Homo sapiens: one gene and its partners. The protein of the gene in region 1 purifies or fractionates together with the protein of each later gene. This does not show direct contact. Each region holds a gene or a part of one and is shown on either strand. Other genes may lie near its edges. The genes, in order: VDAC2, RAB7A, NDUFA9 and FAM162A.

Evidence for each region.
Region 2: the proteins of VDAC2 (region 1) and RAB7A purify together in Homo sapiens (affinity purification with mass spectrometry; 3 studies listed by BioGRID and IntAct, with this or other methods). This does not show direct contact.
Region 3: the proteins of VDAC2 (region 1) and NDUFA9 fractionate together in Homo sapiens (co-fractionation; 2 studies listed by BioGRID). This does not show direct contact.
Region 4: the proteins of VDAC2 (region 1) and FAM162A fractionate together in Homo sapiens (co-fractionation; 3 studies listed by BioGRID and IntAct, with this or other methods). This does not show direct contact.

The regions. Positions count from the first base shown.
Region 1 is NC_000010.11:75,227,753-75,231,948, reverse strand, and holds the end of VDAC2 (non-selective voltage-gated ion channel VDAC2), read right to left. Parts: intron 2,306-4,196; coding exon 2,248-2,305; intron 1,052-2,247; coding exon 960-1,051; 3' UTR 501-959; downstream 1-500. UniProt on the Homo sapiens protein: Non-selective voltage-gated ion channel that mediates the transport of anions and cations through the mitochondrion outer membrane and plasma membrane.
Region 2 is NC_000003.12:128,729,151-128,736,193, reverse strand, and holds part of RAB7A (ras-related protein Rab-7a), read right to left. Parts: intron 1-7,043.
Region 3 is NC_000012.12:4,680,106-4,687,148, forward strand, and holds part of NDUFA9 (NADH dehydrogenase [ubiquinone] 1 alpha subcomplex subunit 9, mitochondrial precursor), read left to right. Parts: intron 1-2,099; coding exon 2,100-2,195; intron 2,196-5,153; coding exon 5,154-5,220; intron 5,221-6,832; coding exon 6,833-7,003; 3' UTR 7,004-7,043. UniProt on the Homo sapiens protein: Accessory subunit of the mitochondrial membrane respiratory chain NADH dehydrogenase (Complex I), that is believed not to be involved in catalysis. Required for proper complex I assembly.
Region 4 is NC_000003.12:122,408,148-122,412,843, forward strand, and holds the end of FAM162A (protein FAM162A), read left to right. Parts: intron 1-1,591; coding exon 1,592-1,684; 3' UTR 1,685-4,187; downstream 4,188-4,696. UniProt on the Homo sapiens protein: Proposed to be involved in regulation of apoptosis; the exact mechanism may differ between cell types/tissues.

The DNA of each region.
Region 1 (4,196 bases):
CAGATGAAGGCCAATGCCACGCAGCCTAAAGGGGTTGTCTCTGGTCTCCTACCTATACCCACCTTTCAGTGTGTCTGCCTAGAAGGAAATGAGTAATGACCTCTCACAGTCCCTCAGGTTACCCTCACTGTCTACACCTTACTCCTCTTCTGTATGCTTAACACCATCTCACCAAACCAGGGCCTACTTTATGTTCCTAGCAGTAGCTCACAGGGGTATGGTGTGTTTGTGTAACTTTTCAGCACCTTCTCTTTTTCCTTTCAATGATGCAGGGCAATTCTGCACAGACTTACAAACTGTGCATGTAAAAGTGTAAAAGCATGTATCCTCTTATTGTAGTCTTAAAAAGCTCGTGGAATCTAGGGACACAGAAGATTCTGTGGCACAGATTTAGGTACAGAGCAAAATACTCACTGGAAAAATCAAGTATTGGCTAGCTACCACGGGGATTTGATCCTAGCTGGCAAACGTGGAACTCCGCAAATACTTGGAGCCATTAATTATGTATACTTGTTTTATTCATAATTTGTCATGTTCTGGGATACCAAAAGTAATAATGGCTGAACTTAACAAAATTTGTAACCTCATCTTAATATCCACTGATCCATCTCATTCAATGGTAACAGTCAATGTTTTCTAAAGGAACATAAAAACAAACATGCACACAATTGCACAGTTTTCATAAAGGTCTATTTCATTATTGGTGGGTAGCGCATTTAACAGTTAAATACATTTAAATAATGTATAGGTGACTGCAGGACTGCAGCATTGGTAACTAGATAACCAACTAGAAACCAGCTAACAAAGAACTGTCTAAATACTTAAAATACAGCTCTTGTTGAGATCATCCTTTGTTTTGATCATCTTCTTGGGGGAAAAAAGCCTGCTGCTGGTCACAATGGAAATATATTAAGGCCAAATCTTCTGATATCCATTCCCAAAGGTTTCTTTCAGCTGGATTAAGCCTCCAACTCCAGGGCGAGCCCAACCTTGTGGCCTCCAGCATTAATGCTCTTCCCATCTACCAGAGCAGAGAGTGTAAGCTTCACACCTATTAAGACAAAAAAACACAAAAACAAAAAACCGTGATGTACCTGGCACGTCACTCAGTCTGGGCCTTCTTTCACAGTCATCCCCAGAGCCTGCCTGTCACTTCCTCAGCCTGTCAGCTGACCTACTAGTGCTGGCCACCAGAGGGCGCTTGGAAGTATCTGAGACACCAGAAGAACTGGGTTACCATTCTAGCTAAGGCACCAAGTCACAGAGAAATGTTTTAATAACAACTTCAAAGTGTTCTAGAATATACTATAATGTTGAGTATACTATCCCGATGAAAAGAGACTAAAGACATAATCATAATTCGATCCTAGAAAGGAAAACCTACAATAAAGACACATTTGGGAACGGGGGTAAATCTGAATATGTATTTGGTATTACATTAATGTTAGTTTTCTTAGATGCGACAATGGTATTGTGCTTATAAAGAAAAATGTCTTACTCTTAGGATACACATGCTAGGGGCTGCCATGTCTGTATGTCTGCAAAACATACATTTTTTTAAAAGTATGTGAAGTTTCAGACATAAAATAAATGTAGTAAATGTTAATAATTGTTAATAAATTGTTAATAATTGGTCAATGCAAGGTAAGGACATATGATGTTCATTGTACCATTCTTCCAACTTTTCTTTAGGTTTCAAAATCACCAAAATAAACTTTGGGGAGGAAAATCCCTATCTGAAGGGGGAAGTCTCCAGTACTTTAAGCAGATTCCAAGATGAGTCATGTGCACTCTGAAGTTGGAGAAGCGCTGTTCTAGACACAGCACGCTTCAAAATATTATATAAAGTCAACAAGACTATAGGCAGAACCAAAGCAATGAGTGAACTTTGATCAACAAAATAAAAATTACTACAAAACATTTCAGATACAAGCGAGGAAACTGACAGGAAGTGGGTATTAAATAATAAGGAATCACTAACTTTCTTAGGTGTGATAGTATTATAGTTATGCAGAAAAGAAGAGACGGGCCTTATTCTGAAGAGAAGTGTCATGACCAAATGGCCCAGCAAAAAAAAAAAAAGCAAAGAAAAAGAAATAAAAAATTGTGGTAAAAGGTAAACACGTATTTATTGTACTCTTCTTTCAACTCTTCTGTGTGCTTGAAAGGTCTGAAAAGTAAGCTGAAGAATGAAAACTAAATTTTTTAATACTATCAAAACAATCCTACTTTATCAAGAATACTTACCAGGCCTCAGAGTCTGAGTATAGCCTACTCCAATTAAGCTAGAGTTGTTGACTTTTGCCTAAAATAAAATACAAAAACAACTGTAAGAAAAATATTTCAATAGAGACAAAGCCCCTACATGTTTCCCCATCATGTAATCATGAAGTGTTCAGTTTTATTCACGTGAGACAATAAAATTCAATATTATGTATTAAGCCAAACAAACCAGGTACTATTTAATTCGTATCCATTCAACTCAAAAATCAAATTCTCAGTAGGACACAATACTCTTGATAGCCACTGGAATGTATCCAAAGACCCCAAACTGTCCATACAGCACAAAAGCCTAAGCACTCTCATAAAAATCATCTTTGTTAATTCTAGTCTAGCACAACAAACCAGACCAAAATGTGGTACAAGTCAGGCTCACTAGAGGTGACACACAGCAGCCTTAAAGCACAGGGTATAAAGTTTAAATTCATGACTTAGTTACACACATTACTACTTCCAGGACTCTTCCTAAAGAATCAAAACCATGAATGTTTAAAAAAAAAAAAAAAATCTCCAAACGACAAGTAATTCCTCTGAAGAATCAGATCAAACAATCCTTTATCCTCACATTCTTACACCTCTCATAAATGCCGGTGCTGCTGAGTTCTGGCTGTATGTAACCACTGCGTTTGGGAGGAGGTCCCAGTGAGGTATCATGTACCAATCCAGGCCCCTGCCTTCCTTGCACAATCCCAACATTTTAGGACTTAGTTACCGACTTCAAGGGCTGGAATGAACCCTGAAGAGTAAGACATAGTAAAGAGTAGATTCTTTCTAGCTCCATTCTCTACCACCCCTAACATTATGAAGACACACCAGAGGCCAGGAACACCTGCCTTCATTTCCAGGGCCTAGGTTGCCTAGACATGCAACTTTGCTTTGCTTTCAGCATTCTGAGGGCTACAATATAAAGGTAACAAACAGACTATGTGACCAAAACAGATCTCCAAATGATTCGATGTCTATACTCTTATAATGTGTAACATCCAAAGAGCCCAATCCAGAGAAAGAAATGATGTAACTATACAGACACAAACCACATCCAAAACACCTGTATTCACTTGGCACTACAGCCAAATATTCATGAGCTACCAATGACCATCTAAAGAAAAAAACAGGCCTGGCGCAGTGGCTGACACCAGTAATCCCTGCACTTTGGGAGGCCAAGGCGGGAGGACCACTTGAGCCCAGGAATTCAACAGCCTGGGCAACACGGTGAGACCCCTGTCTGTCTGTACAAAATTTTCCTAGCTTGGTATGATGGTGCACACCTACCCAACTACCAGGGAAGTGGGGGGTGAGTGGAAGGATCTCAAGCCCAGGTGGCTGAGGGCACAGTGAGCTGTGATTGCACCAGTGAACTACAGCCTAGGCAACAAAGCTCAAAAAAAAAAAAAGAAAGAAAAATACCTCACTAATGACCATCTTGTACCCTACAAATAAGAGCCTCAGACAGCTGGATAGACATTCCTATTATTGGCCAGGCGCAGTGGCTCACGCCTGTAATCCCAGCACTTTGGGAGGCCGAGGCAGGCGGACCACAAGGTCAGGAAATCGAGACCATCCTGGCTAACACGGTGAAACCCCGTCTCTACTAAAAATACAAAAAATTAGCCGGGCGTGGTGGTGGGCACCTATAGTCCCAGCTACTCGGGAGGCTAAGGCAGGAGAAAGGCGTGAACCCGGGAGGCGGAGGTTGCAGTGAGTGGAGATCTTGCCACTGCACTCCAGCCTGGGCTACTGAGCGAGACTCCGCCTCAAAAAAAAAAAAAAGAAAGAAAGAAAGAAATTCCCATTATTGGCCGGGCTGGGTGGCTCATGCCTGTAATCCCAGCACTTTGGGAGGATCACAAGGTCAGGAGTTCAAGACCAGCCTGGCCAAGATGGTGAAACCCCGTCTCTACTAAAACTACAAAAAT
Region 2 (7,043 bases), on another chromosome or scaffold:
CCTTTTAGTCCATTTCCTCATCTAAAAAAAAAAAAAGAGACAAATCAAATGCTGCTTAAATTGTGAAGTTTAAACAAGGTAACAACCTCTATGAAATGTAAAGACATTGTTTATGTACTTTGCTCTGAGTACTGCATTCCTGCTGGGAGGGAAAAGGCAAAGGCAACTTACACAAAGAAGAGTGTCTTGGAAGGCAATTCTTGTGAAGAGGACTTCACTCCTGGATCAATAGATTCTTCAATACGATGCACCACTGTCATCAAGCTTTCTGAACCCAGGTACTAAGCCAAAAGTTTAGTCTCTAACGAGAGACCAGGATGATTCCTGCCTTTTTTTCTTTTTGGTAAGGCAAACTGGAAAGCAGATAGCTAGTAAAACAGTTACATAAGAACTATCTTCGATAGTTTGATATCAACCCTAGATTATCTCAGGCATTTAACCAGTAAAACAGACTGCCCATAAATTGCTAAGAGGAGCCCACAATGGGCTGGCTAAAGAGGAAAACCAAACTAACTGCTCTCTTCCTCTATCCCACCTCCCCTAACCAGCTCCCATGTTTAACTTTTCATTAAAGCCACTTCTGAAGAAGCAACTCTCTGAAAGTTTAAGCACAACTCTTGTAGTATTTCAATCCTAGCCCACTAAGCTCTTAATGTATGGTTTCTTTAGACAAATTACAACATCAAAGCCATTCCTCACCCATAACTGGGGTACTATCTGACTTAATTGTGAGGTTCAAGTGACAGGATTATGCTGTGTCTATTCCAGCATTACAGAGTGAAGTGCCACTTGGTTGAACTTAAATCCTCTAACAAGGGATTGCAGTGCCTGCCCTCCCTACCAGGATCTGGTTTCCATACATACAGTCATTCCCAAATTAGAGCTACTGCAATCCCTACATCCATTCATTGACTTATGCCATTCTTTCCAACTATAATGGTTTCCCAACTCTCACCTGCCTACCAATTTATTTAAAAATCCACTCAACATGCCCCTCACCACCCCAGGCATTGAACAACTCTAAACTAAGTAACTCTCATCTGCCCTGTATTTACAATTATTCCTGAATAATTCTCCACAGGGGCCAACAGTGTTTTCTTATAGTAGAGAAGAAAAACCTGTTAAATGAACACAGAACACATAGTTCATCATTCAGGAAACCCACATATATTAACCACTGACCCAGAAGCATAACTTACATGCTATAAACGGTAACTTACTCTGAAAAGCTAGAACTGGAAAAAATTTAAACAAAAGCTTAGTAATATTTCAAGATCCATTCTAGAATAATGATTCATCCTTGTCCTCAAGTGGCTTAGAGTTGGAAGACAGGCAAAGTCATGTAATATTATTTCAATCAAACTAAGGTCTATAATGGATACACAAAGCTGAAGATCACGCAGCCAAAAGGCTGGTGGTGAAAGGCCCACTAATATCTGAAGGGTCAGTCAGAATATGCAAAACAGACCTATTTCTAGCATATGTACGATAGAATGTGATATTCTAAGGGCTCAAGTGTCTGACCAAAAAAGAGAGTTGGAATGAAAGCACCATCTACTATGGTTAGATCTACACCCCACAGATTACTCTTTCACAGGCCAATTCCACCACCAGGAATGGAGTCCAGACTATAAAAGTAAGCTATGGGCAACTATGGAAGACTAACTGCTCATTCACTGGACTGAAGCGGTGTTTTCCTTTCTTTCTTTTCTTTCCTTTTTTTTTTTTTTTTTTTTTTTGAGGTAGGGTCTCATTCTGTCGCCCAGGCTAGAGTGCAGTGGTGAAATCTCAGCTCCACCTCCCAGGTTCAAGCGATTCTCATGCAACATCCACCTCCCAGGTTCGAGCGATTGTCATGTCTCAGCCTCCCAAGTAGCTGGAATTACAAGTGCCCACCACCACGCCTGGCTAATTTTTTGTATTTTCAGTAGACACAGGGTTTCGCTATGTTGGCCAGGCTGGTCTTGAACTCCTGGCCTCAAGTGATCCGCCCACCTCGGTCTCCCAAAGTGCTGGGATTACAGGCATGAGCCACTGTGCCTGGCCGAACCTCTGCTTTTAACCCCAATGGATTTAAGTAGCATTTACAAGAGGTAGTCTCAAACTGACACGTTTTACTCCAGGATAACCTTCCCCAGTCCCTTGAGGTTCCCCTACACTGGTGAGTAAACAAGCTGTACCATGGTGCCATAAAGAAATGGCTTTCTACCAGAGGGAACTAAAATTAGAGAGAAAAAGTTACAAGTGCTAGCAAGGATGTGGAATATTTGGACTTCTTATATACTGCTGGTGGAAGAATACGCTGGTACAACTTTTGAAAACTGGCCATATCTACTAGAGCAGAATAGATACTCTTATGAAGTGAACTGTGTCCACCTAAAATTTTTAAGTTGAAATTCTAATCCCCAATATATCAGAATGTGACTTATTTGCAGACAGGGCCTTTAAAGAAGTAACTGAGGTTAAGTGAGGTCATAAGGGTGGGCCTCAATCCAATACGACTGGTGTCCTAAAAGAAAAGGAGAATAGGACACAGCCAATACAGAGGAAAGATCCTGTGAAGATACAGGGAAGAGAAGACAGTCATTTACAAACCAAGGAGAGGCTTCAGAAGAAACTAATCCTCCCGACAGCTTGACCTCAGATTTCTAACCTTCAGAATTGAGAAAATAAATTTCTGTTTAAGCCACTCTATCTGTGATACTTGTTACGGCAGCCCTAGCAAATGAATACAGACACATACCCTAAAACTCAGTCTTTTTACTTAAATACATTATGATATATCACATAATACTACTGAGCAATGGAAACTCCAGTTACAACTGTACACAACAACACAAAGTCTCACAAACAACACTGAGTCAAAGAAACCAGATACGCAAGAATACACAGTGTATGATTCCATTTACACAAAATCCAAATCAGGCAAAATTAGTCTACAGTTCTAGAAATCAGAAGACTCACTACGCAAGCATCAGGGCATCGATGATAATGACTTAAAGGAGACTAAGAGGGCCTCTGGGTTTATAAAAATTCTCTAAGCCGTCCACTTATTTGTGCACTTTTCTGTATATATGTATGTTTACTAAAATACAGAAATGATAAATTACTTGGAAATACAGGCAACAATGTACTTATCCAGTGTTACCATGGCAAATAAACCTTACTCTGGAGCTGGATGCATCAGGTTCCTCACTCGTTACCAACAAACATTTGAAAAATACAGCTATTCCTATGATCCCCAGCTTCTCATCATTCAGTGTCTACTAGGAGAAGTATCACAGGTCACATCACCCAAGAGTATCTGGTCTCCTCCACAGTTAAATTCTCACATCATTTTTGGGGAGAGTTCAATTTCTTTTTTCTTGAGACAGGGTCTTGCTCTGCCACCCAGGCTGGAGTGCAGTGCCACGAACACAAACCACTGCAGCCTTAAACTCCTGGAATCAAGTGATCCTCCCGTCTCAGCCTCCCACCATCTGGAACCACAAGTGTACCACCACACCCACCTAATTTTTTCTTTTCTTTGTAGAGATGGAGTCTTACTTTGTTGCTGAAGGTGGTCTTGAACTCCTGGGCTCAAGCAATCCTCCTGCCTTACCCTCCCAAAGTGCTGGGATTACTCCTCCCAAAGTACTGACCACCATGCCTGGCCAAGAGTTCAATCTCATTAAAGGAAGGTATGAAAGTATACATTCAAAGGAAGAAAATAACCAGTTAACACTTTGGTCTTCCTCGGGGTAGTGAATCACAAATTTTCCTTCTTTATATTTCTGAATTTTCCTAGCTTTTTTTTTTTAACTGAATAGTTTAATAATCAGCAAAAAAGACGTATCATTTTAAATAAAAGGTAGTGGGCCAGGCGTGGTGGTTCACGCCTGTAATCCCAGCACCTTGGGAGGCCAAGGCGGGCGGATCACAGGGTCAAGGGATTGAGACCATCCTGGCCAACATGGTGAAACCCCATCTATACTAAAAATACAAAAATTAGCTGGGCATGGTGACGTGCACCTGTAGCCCCAGCTACTCAGGAGGCTGAGGCAGGAGAATTGCTTGAACCCGAGAGGCGGAGGTTGCAGTGAGCCGAGATCATGCTACTGCACTCCAGCCTGGCGACAGAGCTTGACTCTGTCTCAGAGAGAGAAAAAAAAAAAAGGTAGTGGAAGAAAGAGACACTTTTTTTTTTTTTTGAGATGGAATCTTGCTCTGTCGCCAGGCTGGAGTGCAATGGCACGATCCCGGCTCACTGCAAGCTCCGCCTCCCCAGTTCAAGCGATTCTACTACCTCAGCCTCCTGAATAGCTGGGACTACAGTGCATGCCACTATGCCCAGCTAATTTTTATATTTTTAGTATAGACGGGGTTTCACCACGTTGGCCAGGATGGTCTCTATCTCTTGACCCTGTGATCCACCCTCCTCGGCCTCCCAAAGTGCTGGGATTACAGGTGTGAGCCATCGCCCCCGGCCGAAAGATACACTTTTACAAGGGGTGAAATGTCGTGGTCTTTAGGGCACTAGCATATAATGGAAAGGCAGGATGGTACATCAGAAAGAGCACTGAACTGAGTTAGCAGACCTAGACTGACATTCCAGCTGAGCCACCTGAGCATACAGCCTCAGCTATTTCAGGCAGATACACACAACAGTTGTGAGCACCAAATGAAATCACATGTAAACTACAAATACCACAGAAACATTAAAAAGCATTTAAAGGCAAATGTGTAGGAAGGTTTCTACAAAATGTTATCGCTTTTTTAACAACCATTAACATGGTGCAGGTCAGAGGATTTAAGAGTGGGTTTTAAATGACCCGCAGTTATCTCAGGGATCCTCATATCTGTAAGTGAACAGAAGAACTGTTGGTAGGCTGACTGAATACCACATATAAGGGACACTATTTTTCATAAAGTCTATGCTTGGTTATTTAAGGTTAATTCATAGCAGCTTTGTAATTATGCACTCTCAAATAACTCAAACTACAAAGCTTATTCAATGGAAACCAACTTTTTATTACACTTACATACCAATATTGGAAATCAATGATGTAACTATTTACTTCACTAAGTAACTTTTAAAGGACTCCTGATCTGAGATGGTTAATGCCCAGCAGTATGAAGCAAAGCTGGAAAGGAAAGGCTGAGGGAGAAGAGAGAACTTCCTTTCCTTTATCTGGCAGCAGCCACACAAGAAGGACCAACTAAGAGACAAGCAAGGCTGGAGAATTCCTAAACTGCCCTTGTCCCAGGCTCCCCTTAAATAGGCTCCCTTGGATTTGCTTGGTCCCAACTGTAGACAGTCCCAGGACACCAGAAGTGGACAACAGAATCAGGCAAACTTAAATTTCTCAGCAGTGATGCCATCACCAAAACAGAGACTCCAGGCCCCATGAGTTAAGTACTGCATCTTCAAGCAAATGAACAAGGCCAATGCTGTAGGTCAGCATTGGAACCAACTCCCAAGCTTTCTTCCTCCCACAAGGAGATATTTTGCAAGTAGCTATTCTTAAATATGTTTTTGTAATCACAGCCTGGGATACTAAAATTGAAACTGGTAACAGACACTGCTAAAAAACTTGTTTTGATTTCACTCGCCACATCACTTTTACCTCTGATTCACAAATCGCAGTGACCACCACCATTAAGAAATGTTTTAAAAATAAGTTTTAGGCTGGGCATGGTGGCTCACGCCTGTAATTCCAGCACTTTGGGAGGCCGAGGCGGGTGGATCACGAGGTCAGGAGATCAAGACCAATCTGGCTAACACGGTGAAACCCCGTCTCTACTAAAAATACAAAAATTAGCCGGGCGTGGTGGTGGGTGCCTGTAGTCCCAGCTACTCGGGAGGCTGAGGCAGGAGAATGGCATGAATCTGGAAGGTGGAGCTTGCAGTGAGCTGAGATGGCACCACTGCACTCCAGCCTGGGCTACAAAGCAAGATTCCGTCTAAAAAAAAAAAAAAAGTTTTAAAACACAAACTATTTTTCTGTCTTTAATGCCATATGGAGTGTGGGGAAAAACAGAATAGAAGATTTAAGAGCAAATAACTGAAAAGATCAGCATATTGCAAAAATGTTTCTGCAGCAAACTGCAGACAGAGAAGCATAGAGAACTATTAGATAATATTAACAGATAAGCATGTGGTAACACAAAGGAATGGATGCCTGAGAATACAATGGTAGCCTTCCTTACATGAGAGGTAAGAATCATCAACAGCAAGCCAATAGCCAAAAAATAAGGGGGGAGGCGGGGAGTTCATTTCTCGAGTTTCAGTCGCCTTCAGAAGAAGACATTTAATGCCAAGGGGAACCTCTGTTTAGCCTTATTCAGGAGGACTTCTAATCCTTACCTCCCCAGGAAAAGCCTGCCTACAGCTCCAAGTCCAACATCTGGTCAAATCTATCTCAGCTGTATTTGTTGAATTAAATGAATGGGGAGATAAATACTTTATCATAGGAAAAACTAAAATATTTGTGTCAAATGCCAGAGAGGAATGTGCATAAGACAACTGTCATATTTGCGTGGTCTGTGTTTGCTACATCTTTGTTTACAAAGTCTAATGCCAAAGTAAGAGCAAAAACGTTATTAGTGAAGATCCCTTTGAAGACTTTTTTTTTTTTTTTTTTTGAGAAGAAGTCTCGCTCTGTCGCCCAGGCTGGAGTGCAGCGGCATGATCTCTGCTCACTGCAAGCCCTGCCTCCTGGGTTCACGCCATTCTCCTGCCTCAGCCTCACGAGTAGCTGGGACTACAGGCGCCCGCCACCACGCCCGGCTAATTTTTTGTATTTTTAGTAGAGATGGGGTTTCACTGTGTTAGCCAGGATGGTCTCGATCTCCTGACCTCATGATCCACCTGCCTCGGCCTCCCAAAGTGCTGGGATTACAGGCGTGAGCCACCGTGCCCAGCTGAAGACATATTAAAAGCTAATCAAATAACCAAAATTTTTTGGCTTCACTTGGCAGTGGGGTCAGAAAACTGATTCAAAGCCACACTTTACTATAAAGAGTTGTTCTCTGATTACAGGGTTGGTGAGCTTAGACACAGT
Region 3 (7,043 bases), on another chromosome or scaffold:
GAGTGGGTCAGAAAAGTGTGTGGAAAATTTGAGGACAGAAGATAGAAAGTATGCCCTGGGAGAACAGGAAAGAGCATTTCCTAGGAGAACATGTGGGATTGCCAAGCAGAACTGAGTGTTCCATTGGAAATTACTGATAAAAAAATAAGGTGAAGTCAATCAGTTCAATTGTATTTCGTCTACAGTTTTGTCCTTCTGGGGTTTCAGGCTCAGAGAAGGCACATGTTTGGGTCAACCAGAGTGAGTTTTGCTTAGCAAGTATAGTGGGTAGGGGCCTGGGAGACAAGATTTTGCTGAGGATATTTGCAGAGGAATAACTGTGATGCTGAGCCTTGAAATCTAAGCTGGGAGGATGCGGGCTTCAATGTACCTTTGGCTGTGAGGAAGGGCACTTAAACTAGTGTTCCGGTTGCACTTGATGGAACACAAAGTGCTTCAGAACAGCTGAAAAGGAAACCTATTATGTAGAGTTAGTTAACCCATGATACCAGTTTTGTTTGTCATCGTAAAAATTCAAGTTGCTCTTGGCGTAGCATGTATTATATGTCCTGTAATGATCCTTACAAATCCCTCTGGAATTTGAAGAACCCTGCTAAGGCCTTTGTCTGATATTTCTCCTGGCTGATAGTTTCATGTTTTTTAGTAAAGTATGTCAGAATAATGAGGTTCTCACTGAATTACCTTCACTCAGCTCTTGGTTGTCACAGATTTACTGTCATGAAGCATGCAAATGAATTAGGAAATGGGTAAAGAAATATTAAAATGCATTATAAGCACTGATACTTATTAATGCTAGGTTAAAATCGTACAGAACTATTCAGATTAATGGAATAGAGCGGAACGTTCAGAAACAGTCCCATTATATGTAAGGATATAGTATGTGATAAGGGTGACATTTCAGTATAGGGAAAGAGGCAGTACAGTAAATGATTCTGTAAGTAGCATTGAAGCAATTGGCTTACATCTTGGGAAAAATATAATTACATGTTTACCTTATATAATGTACAAAAATACGTCACAGAAGGAACTTTATAGTAAAAAAAAAATCTTTTTTATAAGGTTTAGACAAAATATGTAGAAATTTATGTCACTGCAGAGGAATTTTCTAACTATGAATCCAAGCCATAAAGAAAATCAGTAGTTTTGGTTAAATTAAACAGTTAAAATTTTATGTGCACAAAACACTGTAAATAACACTAAAAGTTAAAATACAAACAATAAAAGGTATTTCCAACAATATCACTAAAATATAGAGAATTCTTACAAATTATTTTTATAGACAGGGACTCCAGGAGGAAAGAAAAGATAGATGTATAAATGACCAAAAATTCGTGAAGAAATGATCTCTCATATTAAAGACATAATAATTAAAACATGAGATACCTTTTTTTTTTTAACCTAGCAGATTGGCAAAAATTTTATTTTCTTATGACAACTCATTTCGGGTGGAGGGGGCATTCTTATATATAATTACATATATATAATTATAATTTATATAATTATCTAAAATGTTATATACTTAACATTTTATATAAATTGATAGAACCATTTTGAAAAGCAGTTTAGAAGTATTCAATAAAAGCCTTAAAATTTTAAAGTCTACATTGACCCAGTTCCACTTCTACAAATATATTCTAAATGCGTAATCATGGATAAGTACAAATATTTATTACAAGAATGTTCATTAAAACATTATAAAAGAAAAAAATTTTAATAGCATAAATATCTCAAAACTGGCAATTGATAAAATAATTGTGATTACATGCAGTGTAATATGTTGTCATGAAACATGCAATAAAATAATGATGTGGAAAGACGATTATGATGTAATGTTAAATGAAAAAGACATTACGGAATAGAATGGATTGTGTATTTATTAAAAGCAGAATAATGTATATATGTAAGGGGATGAGAAGGATATAGATCAAATATATTAACTATCTTTCATAATGGGATTATGGGTGATTTTTCTTTGTGCTATTCTGTATCTACTACAGTGCATATATGTTTCCTTTTTTATAAGGAAAATGTTATTTTGTTATAAAGGAAACTTTGTGAGAAGCGTGTAATTGAAAGAACTGTGTATTGTCTTTTTATAGTCCCAGTCGGTACCTCCTTTTCCACCTGGTGAAGTACATCTTTGCTGTGGCTCACAGATTGTTCCTCCCATTCCCCTTGCCGCTTTTTGCCTATCGGTAAGTAGAGTGCTCCTTTTGTGTGACTTCTGAAAAAGCCAGCTCCACACACTTGTTCCTAATGTTCTCCCTTAGGGTTATAGGGTGTGTGAAGGGCTGGTCTCCAGATCTCCTAGTGTTATGACATTAGCATAGAGAAGAAGCAGAAATAGATTAGTGTTGGTTAAAAAAAAATATATTGGAACATTAAATCTTCCCAATTCCCAAAAGTGAATCTTCCCACTTCCCAAAAGTGAAGATGCAGTTCTTCACTTTCTCCAATTTAAAACCATCGAGTTTAATTTTGGAGAAATATCTTGCTAGGCACATATGTAAGGGGCAGTCAGGTTCCCCTGTGTTTCATGTCGCTCATTATTAAATCAACCTGATCATGCTATTGGGGAAAGGAGTCAGGCTAATTCAGACTTGGATTTGTGGTTGCCTTCTCTTCTTTCCCTGCTTCTTAGTTTACTTCTTCTCTTTGTGGGTTAAATATCTTTGACTTGGCTGGGAGTGGTGGCTCATGCCTATAATCCCAGTACTTTGGGAGGCCAAGGAGGGCAGATTGCTTGAGCCCAGGAGTTTGAGACCAGCCTGGGCAATATAGCGAAGCCCCATCTCTACAAAACATACCAAATTAGCTGGATGTGGTGGCATCTGCCTGTAGTCCCACCTACTGGGGTGGAGGTGGGGTGATGCAAGAGAATTGCTTGAGCTTGGGAGTTCAAGGCTTCCAGTGAGCTGAGATTGTGCCACTGCACTCCAGCCTAGGTGACTGCTACTGCGCACAGTGGTGCACACCTATAGTCCCAGCTACTTGGGAGGCTGAGGTGGGAGGATCACTTGAGTTCAGGAGTTTGAATCCAGCCTGGACAACATAGTGAGACCCTGTCTCTGGAACAAAAAAAAAAAAAAGAAAGAAAAGAAAAACCTACTGCCCTGAGGTAACTGTTGATGGGAGCTCCTTTCTCGTCCTAGGTTTTATATTGTCCTGATTTGAACCAAATAAAATAAAATCTTGAACTTACCATGTCACACCCTAGTGGTCTGGTTAAGGAGACTGTCACATCCATTGTGCCACAAACTGATCTTCATTTGGGTTTTCATCCATTCATTCAACAAATGTTTATTGAATGCCTACTATGTCTTAGATAATGTACTAGGTACTCAGAAGGTTACAACAAACACTCAAAAATCTTATGGTCAGAATGTTACAACAAAAACTCAAAAATCTTATGGTCTAACAGGGGTACCAGAAAAATAGACCACTAGAATGCAGGGTGATAACGATATTTATTGAGTGTTACACCTTTCAGACTATTCACTTTGTCTCCTTTAATACTCAGTTATCTATAAAGTAAGTAAGGAGAGTATGTGGAGTGAGTGGAAGAGGAGGCCACAGAGTAAGAGAAACTTACAAGAAGGCCAAAAAGTGATCAGGCATTTAAGTGGGAAATGAGAGTTTGGAATTCTAGATACCAAAGGGAATGGAGTGTTTTCAGGAGAGAATCGATGTTTTAAGAAGGGGAACATTGCTGTTCATTCACATGTATCTCAAGCCCCTAGAACAATGCCTGGTACACATTAGGCACTCTGTTAATATTGGTAGAATGAAGTCTTACAGAAAAGTCAAATAAGATAAAGGACCAAAAAATGTCTACAAATGACCATTGTGACCGTGGCTTCAGTGCCGTGAAAGGGATATAAGCCAGATTGCAGTGAGGCACTTTCATGGTTGTATATAAAATTGAGTTAGAGTTGGCTTATGTATGCCCATGACATGGCCCACTGAGGACACTAGAATAGAGACCTGAAGTGATCTGTTAGCATAGAATGAGGGCACAGAGAGTTAGAGGTTTGTAATGAGTGTTTTTATTAAGCTATGTTAGCCCAATAAATTATTTTTTTCTGCCGTTGAGGAATCTGAGGCTTTATATGTTGCTGGAGAAATTCCAGCCAGCTTCCTTTTTCATTTATTTATACTATGCATTAGAATGTTGTTTTTCAAGCCTTTAAACGGCTGTGGAACCCTGTGCTCACTGAAGTTTTACGTCAAGTCCTGCTGGGTAAATCCAATAAAAGAGCTGGTCTGGTTGCAGTGATGGGTGATACTCAACGCATGTACTCCCAAACCCTTGGCCCCCCAGGACTCTGTGGGGCCCCAGCAAATTCCTAGTGTTCCTCAGATGCTAGTTGAAAACCCACTGCTACTGGGCACAGTGGTGTACACCTGTAGTCCCAGCTACTTGGGAGGCTGAAGTGGGAGGATCACTTGAGCCTGGGAGTGTGAGTCCGGCCTGGACAACATAGTGAGACCCTGTCTGTGGAACAAAAACAAGGAAAGAAAAGAAAAAGTCACTGCCCTGAGGTAACTGATGATGGGAGCTCAAGTGGCACGTAAGGAGCCCTTCAATTTTCATTAGCAGTGAAGAGATGGCAGTAATGAAGATAGGTGGCCTTTTCCGTTTTGGGTTTTATATTGTCGTCCTGATTTGAACCGTAGATTTTAGCCTTCTCCTTGCTTTTGGATTTTTTTTTTTTTCCTCAAGGGCCCCAGCTTTCAGGGGTTACGTTGTATATTTTACACACCATTCAGCTTGCCCTGCTTCTGTAAAGGCAGCATATTTGAATATCTGAGGTTTAGATTAAATTGAATTTCACAGACTTGATTAAATACTGGAGTTTTTCTGTTTGCTTTGTTGTTTGTTGGTTTTATTTCATTTTAAGTTTAAGATCTGTTGTTTCTTTGGAGGAGAACAAAGTGTACCAGCAGTTACAGCAGCCGACTGGGTTGGCTTGAGAGGAGATGGACCAAAAAGCAGAGGTAGCCTCACAGGTCGAGGTGGTTATTTTCTTAAAAAAAAAAAATCAGTTCAGACTGCTCTACAGCGGTCTGTCTTCCTGCAGTTCTCATAGGCTAGCTTACATCTTGGGCAGAGAGATGCTTATCACATGTGCTATATGTATTTCTCTTTCCAGATGGGTAGCAAGAGTCTTTGAAATAAGCCCATTTGAGCCCTGGATAACAAGGGATAAAGTGGAGCGGGTGAGTACATGTGTGGAAAGCGTCTGCCTGGGCAGATGATGAGGCGTTAGACTTATTTTGCTTTGCCTGCTTGCTTGTTTCCCGGCCCTTGTCTGTTTGCTGTTCTTGCTGTCTGCAGTCAGCCCCTCTACTAGCGCTGAAGCTCATCCACCTGCCCTGCTCCAGGGGGCGGCTCCTCCCTACTTTCTGTCCGTCATTATCAGTGTTTCTTTCTCTGCTTGATCACTCCTGTCAACACACAAAATTGCCTAATAGCTCCCCTGCCAAAGCCTCTCTTCCTCCCATCACTCTTCCAGCTACTTTCCTGTTGTGTCCCTTCACATCCTAACTCCTCCTAACTTCCTCCTAACGTCCTGAAGAAACTGTTGACAGTTTCTTCCTTCTTTCTTTAACCTACTCCAGTCAGGCTTTTATTCCCATTTCTCCCCTAAAATTGCTCTTTTCAAGGTTATCCACAATCTCCAGTCTCCTTGCTGCCACATCCAATGGTCAGTTCTCAGACCTCATGTCATGTGCCTGTGCATTTGCTTCTAGGGAGGATGCAAAATAAAATAAAAATACTATACCAATACCACATCTACCTTGGAAGACCTATGGACCATATATTGGCAAGAAGTAGCCAAATTGTCCCCTGAATGCTGCCTGAAAGCTAAAGTGTAGAGAAGATGAGAAAGTAGTGCTTAGGGAACATGTGGAAGTGGGCAACTCACATACTTTCTTCAGACATGGTCTATGAAAGATCAGGCAGGATCGCTGGTTGTCAGACACTTCAGTTTATCTTACACTAAAGTGTCTCTTACGTTTATACTTGAGAAAGTGTTGATACAGTGGCCTGAGTAGGTTTTGGATTTGGTTTGCAGACTGGCTTACAGCCCTCTGGTAAAAGAATTGCAGACTTTCAGGTGGGTAGGATGAGGGATTGCTGCTGCTCTAGGTGCAAATGGATTCTATTTATGTGGTTTTGAATAATAATCTGGGATGTTTGCAAACTTTACAGTTCATTATCTTTCCCTATAAACAAGATGGGTTTGGTTTTCTAGCTCTACAGTGAGCATTAGTCAACCAGGTTGAGTACAGCTGGAGCAAAAAAAGTTACTTGTTTTTTTTTTTTTTTAATGGGCAAGGAACAAATGTTGTGTTATCTCCTAAATTCAAAGTTAAAACTGAGTCAGAACGCCCGTGCTCAGAAAACAGGGGCGTGAGAGGACTGAGGAATGGACCAGCTCTGCTTAAGCCCTGATTTTATTCCTAAACCCTCCTGTTCAGCCTCCCCTGGCAAGTGTGGTGACTTGTGCTTCCCTGCCCTAGATTTATTTCTGTTGAAATCTGTATATAGAATGGCTCATGTAGTGCCAACATCCTGTGCTCGCGGCTGCCACTGGGGACCTCGATCTGATACTTGGTGATCTCGCCCTCTTTTGTCTTAAGCCCTCTTTGTGTGTTCTGCTTTTATAGTGATTTGCATGAATCGAAAATTGCCACATATTCTTTGAAAGCAATTAAGTCTCAATAATAGGACTCATGCCAGCTTGAATGTTTAAGTGCCTGCTAGGATAGCACTTTGTTCTCAGCCAGTTTTCAGCATTGTCTGTGGTCCTTTGTTTATCCAAAGATGCACATCACAGACATGAAATTGCCTCACCTGCCTGGCTTAGAAGACCTTGGTATTCAGGCAACACCACTGGAACTCAAGGCCATTGAGGTGCTGCGGCGTCATCGCACTTACCGCTGGCTGTCTGCTGAAATTGAGGATGTGAAGCCGGCCAAGACCGTCAACATTTAGTGCCTCCTGAGCAGCTCTTGGTTTTGGCGTCTTTTGGGTC
Region 4 (4,696 bases), on another chromosome or scaffold:
TATGTAACAGGCACTGTTAAGCTCACTTAATCACCCCCATAACCCTAAGAGGTAAATAGTTTTCCCAAACTCACACAGCTAACAAGTGGCAAGATAAAAATCTAGACCCAAGTTTGCAGGTTACCAAACCTCATACTATACTATCTTGCTATTAAGCCATAGTTATTTTTATATTCAGCAGCTTTGGTCAAATTCTTCTTTTAATACCATGTATAATTCTATATATCACAGCTTCCATGTGGAAAGTGATGTCTTACAACTACTTTAAGATACTAAAAAGGTCCTTCTATACACGCACTCTTAACTGACTTTCTTATCCTCAGTAATTCCAGAGTAAAAGGAAATGTACTTTTGGCTGTCTTCATTCTTGCAGTTAAATGGAAATACTGACCATTTTAGGCTGACCTCATGGGAGTACGAAGGGGCAAATGTGCTGAGCTGGGTGAAGTTCTCTTGAAAACTCTGTTCCCACCCCACTTCATTTTTTCTTGTCTCCCTCTTTGACCTCTCATGCATAGTTCTCAGATTAAAACCAGCAGAAACATGTGGACAGGACTGTGAGCTTCTAGGATTCTGAGAAATTTGCATTGCTTTTGTATACTCGATTGTACTAGCTGAGTTTAAATACTCCAGAAGCAAATTATTCACCTGGAATCTCTTCTAGCATCATCCAGGGGTATATGCTGTGTATTTTAGAGAGTTCTTCTCCTGTTCTTTACCATAAAATTGTAACATTTTAGTTTTATGGAATTTCTGTTTCCATAAATACTACTGGAATGGAGAACTTTTGAACTCAATGTGATTTGGAAGAGAAAAATTAGCCATTGTATATTTTGCTCTCACCATCAACTTCCCTTTCTCCCCCCGCTCCCCCACCCCCCGCCACATACCCAATTCTTTTACATATGAAATTACACAGATAGAAGGAAATATCAGCTTAGGGTGCTAGTTTCACTATTTGGTATAAAAGTGTTGAAACTGGCCTGTATGTAAGCTTCATAGAAATCTGACCGTTTACATGGAGGGAAACAAGGGAAGAGGACGGTTGCCTCCCCCACTCAAAGGTTGGAATTGTAGTACAGATACTCGTGGAAATCATCAATGGTAGTATTTGGGTAAAGTCTGGGATTCCCAAAGCTGAATGTTTTTGGTAAAAGAGAAGTGAGGAACTAGAAGGATCTGAGTATGCAGATAAGTTGGGGAAGGAGAAATGGCAGCAACAGAGAAAAGTGAAAGAAGAAAAACGGGATAGAAATGGCAATGAGAAGGTATTTAGTATAAAAGAGAAGTGGGGTGGAATGAGAAGAAAGTATAAGAGAAAAGGAGAGGATAAAGACTGAAAGAAAGGGGCCAGAAGGGAAGAAAAAGGAGAGGTGTGGCACTTCTTACTTATGCTTGAGTGGATGAGCTGCTGTTCTTGGAAGCGTACGAGGAAGTTGAAGCACATAGAGGAAACTGCCGTGCTCAGTGTGCAAGCAGCAGAGGACTCCATGCCTCCATGCCTCTGTTAACCTGCTGTCATCAGTGCAAGGTAAAGACACCCTCCCCTGACCAGCATACAAATCACCTGTTCAAATCTGTTTTGCTTTAGGCTGCCCAAAGACACGAGACTTTAACAAGCTTGAACTTAGAAAAGAAAGCTCGTCTGAAAGAGGAAGCAGCTATGAAGGCCAAAACAGAGTAGCAGAGGTATCCGTGTTGGCTGGATTTTGAAAATCCAGGAATTATGTTATAACGTGCCTGTATTAAAAAGGATGTGGTATGAGGATCCATTTCATAAAGTATGATTTGCCCAAACCTGTACCATTTCCGTATTTCTGCTGTAGAAGTAGAAATAAATTTTCTTAAATAATGACTGTGTTTTATTGTTTTGATCCAAGTCAAGTGTAGCCTCTCAGCCTTTTGGAGAAAAATGAAACAATTTATTTCAACTTGAATACCAACTCTTCAGAGAAGCAGGTACCATATCTTACTTCTCTTCCCATTATCAAAGTAACCTCTCCACAGGCGAACTCATTTTGAGGAGATAAGGAAGGCCAGTTGAGTATATGGCCCAGGTGCAGCTTGGAGGGCCAGCCTTCTCAAATGTCCTGGTGTACTGGTGGGGAGGCTGCCCCCTAATAGAGCGAGCGCTGAGAAGCAGCCAGACCACATTCTATAATCTTTGAACATGCTGGCAGATGGAGGCTTTTAGGAGAATAGTTTTTTAAACATTCTGACAAGGTCCAGCCAGGAATTTCTAAGGACTTAGAAATCCCAGCGTCATGGAGTTGCTTGGGGTCAACACAAGTCACCTCTTAGCTTCATGCCTTAGAATTCTCAACTGGCTGTTTTCTTACCACCTGAGAAACTAAATTTCTCAATTATAAAAATCTCATGTATTATTACTGTTAGAAGTATTTGCACCTCATATATATCTCATTTACAGTTTGACCTTGGGATATCGAGTTGTCTCATATTTAGGTATGAATACAGGTTTCTATTTTAAACATTGATTCTCACATGCTTCTTAATTATTCATGGATGACAAGCCATTATAGTAGTCCCTTCTTATCCACGGCTTTGTTTTCTGTGGTTTCAGTTACCTGAGGTCTGAAAATATTAAATGGAAAATTCCTATAACAATGCATAAGTTATAGATTACATACCATTCAGTGTAGCATGATGAAATCTCTTGCCAATCTGTTCCATCCACCTGGGATGTGAATCATCCCTCTCTCTGGTGTATTCACACTGTATGTGCTAGCCGTCTCTGTTACGAGATCAGCTGTCGTGGAATCAGTGCTAGTGTTCAGGTAACTCTTATTTAATAATTGCCTCAAAGTGCATTGTGCTGTGCCTAATTTATAAAATAAACGGTATCATAGGTATGTATGTATACGAAAAACATAGTATATGCAGGGTTGGGTACTATCCACAGTTTCAGGCATCTACTGGGGGGTCTTGGAATATATCCCCAGAGGGTAAGGGGTGACTACTGTATACAGCCATGCCAACATGCTGGTTCTCAGAGAGTTATAAGAGAGATTAAAAATACATGCAGCTGTTTGGGCACTTTCTTCCCAAATAAAATACCCAGTAAAATGTAACATACTACCTATAGCTTGATAATCTATCTGAGGATGTTTATGATGTCTGTCTATATACTTTAATTTGGCCTTAGCTTCTTTGTAGGTATCAAGTTATCACTTGCAAATTTATTTTCAAAAAGCATAGTTTCTTGTACATTTTAGAAGATTAGTTTTTCTTATTTTGGGACACCTACACCAATGTTTTAAATGTGGATAAATTTTAATGTGGAATTTCTTTTAAAAATAATCCTCTTCATAGAGCAATACAACAAAAATGTGTTGTATCTTGGAGATTTACATTATAAATGTAGTAACATTTATGAGCTTAAATTTAATGAAACCTTTTTTTTTTTTTTGAGACAGTCTTGCACTGTCGCCCAGGCTAGAGTGCAGGGCATGATCTCAGCTCACTGCAACCTCCGTCTCCCGGGTTCAAGCAATTCTCGTGCCTCAGCCTCCTCAGTAACTGGCATTATAGGTGTGCACCACCACACCTGGCTAATTTTTGTATTTTTCATAAAGACGGGGGTTTCACCATGTTGGCCAGGCTGGTCTCAAACTCCTGACCTCAGGTGATCAGCCTCCCTCGGCCTCCCAAAGTGCTGGGATTACAGGCATGAGCCATGGTGCCTGGCCAAACGTTTTTATTACAAATATTACATTAAACTAAAGCTCACAACTGTTATTATGCATCAGGAATTAACAGTCATTTCTCATTTGTGTTATTCTCCTATTTGATAACATATAGTGACTATCTCTTTATGGGTTAAATATCAGTTTCTTGGCCAGAATTCAAGATCTGCCCCTAACTAATCCTACTTCTCCCAGTACCCTTACAGCACTCCTACCCTACTAGTAACTCTGATATCTCATAGTCCTCAGATTTATCAAGCAAACGAAACTGAATGAGCACTACTATAAGGTACCACAAACTACAAAAGGAGACAGTTTTGCCCTTGTTGCTTTCAGTTAAATTATTGTGCTATTTTTTGCTTAATTTCTAGGTTTTTTTTGCGTGTTTATCATGTCTCCGTAGGTAAAGTGGGCAGAAATCTTTTTCTACTTTACATTTCCTGTAAGTGCTGTTTGTTTGAATAAAGTTAATGTGTGAGGTTACGGTTACTTTTTATTTTTAATCAACATGATAGTTTTGGGAATTTATTACTAAAATTTATCAAAGCAGGCAAGGAATGAAGTTGTATCCTTCACTGTCAAACATTACTTGAGTCCCTTTACTACACAAAAAAGCCAAAGAATACAAGAATACAGAGACATACTTCCTGATTCCACAGAACTCATAATCTGGAAGCACAGCCCATGAAAGCATTTCAGTACAAACTGGTAAATAATAGGGACAGGAAAACCTAACTAACTCAGCTGTCAGCTGTGGTTGCAGGCAGGCCGGCAGTGGATGGTTCCTTCAGTGATTTCTGAACTGAGTTTGAAGCATGGGCAGGAATTAGTAGGTCAGACACAGAACAAAAGAAGAGCAGTCTTCATCAGACATTTAGCTTGCCTGAAAATCACAAGCACAATCTAAAAAGGTAGTGAAAGGTCCTTGAGAAACACCATTTATAATGTTGTTTTGGTTTTTGAAATTTTTAGACTCTTAGAATGAACCTAAC